Regions from separate parts of the Homo sapiens genome. Here region 1 is linked to region 2. Evidence: fine-mapped expression QTL. A gene starts in region 2. The other region holds a variant in brackets. All regions are shown on one strand. Distances are from middle to middle.

Region 1 (2,923 bases), 33 kb after region 2:
CAGTTAAGTCACCTGAGGTACCTAGTACAGTTTCTAGTAGACAGTAAGTAGCCAATATGTTTTACCATTACTATACTATTCAACATGACTAAAGTGTCATACAACTGCAGGGTACTTCTGTTCCTTTTACATTTATTGTTGTTACTATTCTGTGAAAAAAGATGAGTCCCAATCTGATATGCATAAAGTGTTTGTGTAATTCATTTCGCAAAAAGTAAGAAGGATAATTTTTTTACACCAAGCTATATTAATCAAACCTCATTCTTAAACTTTTGGGGTCATTTTTCTCCTAATAAGATAAGGCATACTAATAGGCACAAGGCTCACTATGCTTCTTTAGCCTTTTCAATATTTATTCTCCTAACGTGCCTCATGTATTCAGGCCATCTAGACTATTACCGGTTCCAGGATATACTCTGTGCTTTCTAATATCACCACATTGTTCTGCACATTCTTTTTAGAGGGCTCTTGGTTTTGTACTGGCAGAAAGTTCACTGGCGTCTGTGAGAATGTATATGTACTTCTGCATTTAGAATTAGATCCTGGAGTGATTCAGGAATGGTAAACTAACCTGTGTGCCAGTTTACAAATTCCTTTCCTCTCATTTAATTTTCACCTCCACCCCGACCTCCAAATGCCCCTAGAGCCCTTAAGGGAAGAAACAGGAGGTATTACAAAAAAGTAGGAGATCCTCTCTGAATGTCTAGATCACTGTGTTGCCTGCTCAGCTTCCCTCTGGTAGAAAGGGGGAAAAGTCAACTGACTTGAGAGGACACATGGTCTCTGAGCCATCTTTGTGCCATGATTGCTGTCCCATTTTTCCCTAAGAGCTGAATGGATTTCACCAGTTTTTACGTAAGTAATATGACATTTTGGAGAGTTGGGCTGTCGGAGGATTTTTTCACTACCCACCTATCAGAAGTGGGTTAAGAAGCCACTTTTGGCTTCTCAATTATAATTAAGATTGTTAAGGTGACTTGACCCTGTTGGTGTGTAATTAATAATGCAGCCTTCACAAGATATAAATGCTCTTTTAATTAGCATGGTAAAACAAAAGGGAAGATACACTCTTACACAAAGGAATAAGAAGCTTATTACACAAAACAGTTTGGGTTTTGTTTTGGGTTTTTTTTTGCTTTTCATTTGGAATGTTTAAACATATACAAACAGATTAATATAATATACCAACTTCAACCATTATGGGCATGCTGCCATTCTTGTTTATCTAGACCACCACTCATTCCCAGTCCCAGCTAGATTTTTTTTATGGTCCTATTTTTCTGAGGTGAATGTTTCCACATTGAAATACACACATATTTTTAACTGTGCAACTTTGACAAATGATATGCCTATGTGAAGCACTCCCCTGTCAAGATATAGAACATTTCCATCATCCCAGAAATTCCCTTGTGTCATTTCCT[A/G]TCAATCCCTCCTCTTTTCAGAGGCAAGACCATAGTTTTGCCTGTTCTAGAACAACATACAAATGGAATTATGTAGGATGTACTCTGTTGTGTCTGGCTTTTATCACTATAATATCAGAGCTTTCTGTGCATGGTGGCATGTATAAGTAATTCATGGCTTCCCATTGCTGAAATGTATTCTATTGTATGATGTCATCCACAACCTCCAGGATGGCTCCTTTTTAGTCCTCTCCCATATTGAATGGGGGACTAAATATTGGTCTGTGTTACCAATAGGACATAGATGAAATGACGGTGTGTGACCTCTGAGGCTAGGCCATAAAAGACATTGCCGCTTCCACCTGCTTTCCCTGGGATCACTCATATTGGGGAAGGCCAGTCACCGTGTCATGGGGGCACTAAAGCAATCAGCAGAGAGGCCCATATGGGGAGAAACTGAGGTCTCTTGCCAACAACCAGCACTGTGTAAAATAGATCTCCAGTCATTGTCAAGCTTCCAGCCTGGCCAAAATGTTAACTGCATCCTCATGAGGGACTTCAAGCCAGAAACACCCAACAAAGCTGCTCCTGAATTCATGACCTACAGAAACTATGTTCATGAGAGATATGGGTCTGCAGTTTTTCTTTCTTATAATTAGGCATTAGGGAAATGCTGACCTTATAAAGTAGTGAGTTAGAAAGTGTTCCCTCTGTTTCTGTTTTCTGTAACAGTTTGTAAAGAACTGGTATCTTGTTCCTTAAATCTTTGGTAGACTTCACCAATGAAACCATCTAAGCCTGGTAATTTCTGTTTGGAAGGTTATTAATTGTTGATTCAATTTTTAAAATAGAAAGCCCTGTTCCGATTATCTCTTTTTCCTTGTGTGAGTTTTAGTAGATTGTGTCTATGCAATAATGGTCAATGGCCAGGTCAAGGGTGGAACAGGACACAACCAGCAGAAAAGCCCTGAGGCAGGAAAGAGCTTGGCATGTTAAAGTAAGGGAAAAGTGGCTCTTTTATCTGGACCCTAGTGAGCCATAGTGAGAGTGAGACAAGGAGGTGGGAGCATCAGGCAGAAAGAGACTAGACCGATGAGCTTTGCCTTGTCAGAATTTAGGACTCTATCTTACGGCAATGGGAAATCACTGACAGCTTTTACAAATCTCCTTGAATCTGAGATGTAGCCACATTCTGAAGTCCTCATTCTCTTTAAGATCTTCATTCTGCAAAGCCAAAAAATCTGTCTGGGGAAATTCAGCAATGACTAATACGCGAGTAGATCAACAGGCAAACACTGATTTTTTTTTTTTTTTTTTGGCACAGGTATTAAAGCAGTTGTTCTCAATGTTGGCCTCAAAGTGGAATCACCTGGGGAGTTTTGAAAGCTCCTACTTCCTTGAAACCCTAATTTTAGAGACTTGATCTAACTTGTCTGAGATAAGGTAGGAGGATTTCTAAATGCTTCTCAGTGATTCATATGTGGAGCCAAGGTTGAGAACCATTAGCAGGGAAGCTAGAATGC
Region 2 (2,923 bases):
AGCTTGACATTCACAACTAGGCTATGATTTTCCTATCGAACACCAACTAATCAGAGAGGGTCACTCTGTGACTGTGGTGAAGCAAGGCAAAAAAAAGAAAAAAAAAAAAAAGACCAGTTTATAATTTTGTCTAAGCAGAGACAAAAACAATGCGACTGTGCAAACCACAAAACATTAGCTTTCATTATTAATAATTTTACCCAGTAGTCTGGTAACATTGATACTGGCCAGTCAGCTTGGTGAAATAATCCAAACATTTACCTATGCAGAACAGACTAAGACAAAAATAAAGTAGGCACATAATACATTTCAGCATAAAGACCATATATGTATATTATCTAGTACAGGAAGCCCACTACTATTTAGTCCTACTTCACAGATTTGATTCTTAGTTAACTACTTAATTAGATGTCTTACCAAAGAAAATGACAAGCTGTCTTGGCATGTATTTTGAAATTTAAAATAATGTGAGCTTTTTTAAAGTAACTACTCTTGGGGCTTAAAACACAATTGCATACTGTGTCTGAAATGGATTTGGCTCCTCTTCTTACACTGTCAGCAATTAACTGAAAAAATTGATAAATATTATGTAATTATCAGTTAATTACTGTTAACCCAGGCAAACAAGTTAATTTCACATAAAACATGAAATCAGGCCGGGCGCTGTAGCTCACGCCATTAAACCCAGCACTTTGGGAGGCCGAGGTGGGTGGATCCCCTGAGGTCAAGAGTTCGAGACCAGCCGGGCCAACATGGCAAAACCCCGTCTCTACTAAAAATATAAAAATTAGCCGGGCGTGGTTGTGGCGCCTGTAATCCCAGCTACTCCGGAGGCTGGAGCAGGAGAATCGCTTAGAACCTGGGAGGCGGTGGTTGCAGTGAGCAGAGATCGTGCCACTGCACTCCAGCCTGGGCGGCAGAGAGAGACACTGTCTCGAAAAAAAAAAAAAGAAAAGAAAAGAAATCAGCCACGATTCAGATTTTTAATGCTAACAAGACGTTTTGCTTTCTAAATGCACACACCTTTAATATAAGGGGTGTGAGGACAGATATTTCCACAATCTAAGTGGTGTTATGACAATAATTACGAGAGCTCAGTAATAGAAACTATGTTTAACTTTACCTCGCTAGCAGCCAGGAGTCTAGCACATTATAGGTACTAAACAATGTTGTTTAGTACCTATAATGTGGTTTTGGAGAAGCAGTGCAAACGCAGCCGGCCAGGATGCCAGCAGTGCCTGCCCACGTGAGCTAGGCGACATCCCCCTAAGCGGCTGCGGCGCATGCCCACAGCGGGCGAGGCGCTAGAGGCGGGGGCGCCGGGAGGCGCGGGCTTTGCTCCTGGGGTCTCGGCCTTGGCCGGCTGGACCTGACCCTAGGGCGGCTTGCGCAGCTGTCGGGACGTGACTGCGTTCAGCCGCGTCGGGCGTGCTTCCCAGACTTGCCCAAGTTCGGGTGCCCTAGCTGCCCCTTTGCAGCCGCTGGCCTACCCGGCCCGCGGGTGAGAAGGTTGCGACGGGAGGTGGGTGGAACTCGCCAGCGCCGGGACCGCGGATTGGCTGCCTCGGCTTTCTCTTTTCCCCGTGGGCTCCGGCGTGAGGCGCTGAAGCGGCCGGCAGCCGGCGACCGGCCCTCACCGTCCGCCGGGTTGCGCTCTGCTTTTGCGGTGAGGCGTTGACCACGCCCATATGAATTGGAGCTCTCCGCCAGTAGGAGTTTCCGGAAGGAGTTTGAATTTTTGTGATTTTTATGCTTGTTTGGTCGGTGGAATATGTTGGGATTTATGTTTGCCTCTGAACAAGTGTCTTGCTCACATCGTAAATGACTTTCTCTCCGAAACGCTAAATATTCTTTCCCGCAGGAGCTCATATCCTTATTTTCCATGACAGATCTTAACGACAATATATGCAAAAGATATATAAAGATGATAACTAATATAGTTATACTGAGCCTGATCATTTGCATTTCGTTAGCTTTCTGGATTATATCAATGACTGCAAGCACCTATTATGGTAAGTCTGAGTGTTCTAAGTTGTTTCTCTGTAATCTAGTCAGAGGAAATTAAAACCATACCATTGTGAAATCCAAAACTCATATCCTCTGAATGGTTATGAATGGTTGTGTTTACTTAACTTCCATAGCCTGATTTAACTTACTAACATGATAGTATAAACAATGCCTTTAATAAATGCTTGTTGTGATAATTCGAGTTATACCTATTTCTTTTTTTTTTTAATTTTTATTTTGTATAAGATAGGGGTCCCTCTGTGTTGCTAGGCTGGTCTCAAACCCCTAGGCTCAAGTGATCCTCCCACCTGTGTCTCCCAAAGTGCTGGCAATACAGGCCACCACTTCTGGACTAGTTACACCTATTTCAAAATGTCTTTATATTTTATGTAACTATTCCATCTGTCTTGGTAAAAGATAAGTGAGGCGAATATAGCTTTGTAAAGCAATTACAGTGATGCTTTTAATTTTGAATAAGAATATTAGTAATGGGCCAGGCGCGGTGGCTCACGCCTGTTATCCCAGCACTTTGGGAGGCCGAGGCGGGCAAATAACCTGAGGTCGGGAGTTCAAGACCAGCCTGGCCAACACGGTGAAACCCCAGCTCTACTAAAACTAGAAAAAAGCTGTAATCCCAGCTACTTGGGAGATGGAGGCAGGAGAATCACTTGAACCCTGGAGGCGGAGGTTGCAGTGAACCAAGATTGAGCCACTGCACTCCAGCCTGGGCCACAGAGCGAGAATCCGTCTCAAAAAAAAAAAAGTAGTAATGTAGTTTATCAGTTTCACATGTTCTGTAAAAATAATAAGAATTAAAAACGGTATACTATTTACATTTGGAGAGCTGAAGGACTTATCTGCCATTTGGTTGCTTCAAAAGAATAGACTCCTTTTAAAGCCTAAAGCTACATTGCTT

What was found. PIP is the estimated chance that this variant, and not a neighbour inherited with it, causes the effect.
Region 1: its variant is fine-mapped to the expression of TMEM19 in blood mononuclear cells (TOPMed, PIP above 0.99). The same link has a PIP of 0.9 or more in T cells.

What each region holds. Positions count from the first base shown.
Region 1 is chr12:71,717,399-71,720,321 of GRCh38, forward strand. LOC107984530 (a long non-coding RNA gene) reads left to right here. Exons shown (of 3, transcript XR_001749202.1): 2 at 2,725-2,843. Among named protein-coding and RNA genes, the nearest start is that of TMEM19, 33 kb to the left of the region's middle. The variant A/G (reference allele first, on the strand shown) is at 1,422.
Region 2 is chr12:71,684,799-71,687,721 of GRCh38, forward strand. It overlaps TMEM19 (transmembrane protein 19), which reads left to right and starts at 1,284. Exons shown (of 6, transcript NM_018279.4): 1 at 1,284-2,012. The coding sequence starts at 1,883. LOC124902965 (a long non-coding RNA gene) reads right to left here and starts at 1,266. Exons shown (of 2, transcript XR_007063367.1): 1 at 1,124-1,266. RefSeq lists silencers at 1,556-1,625, 1,616-1,831.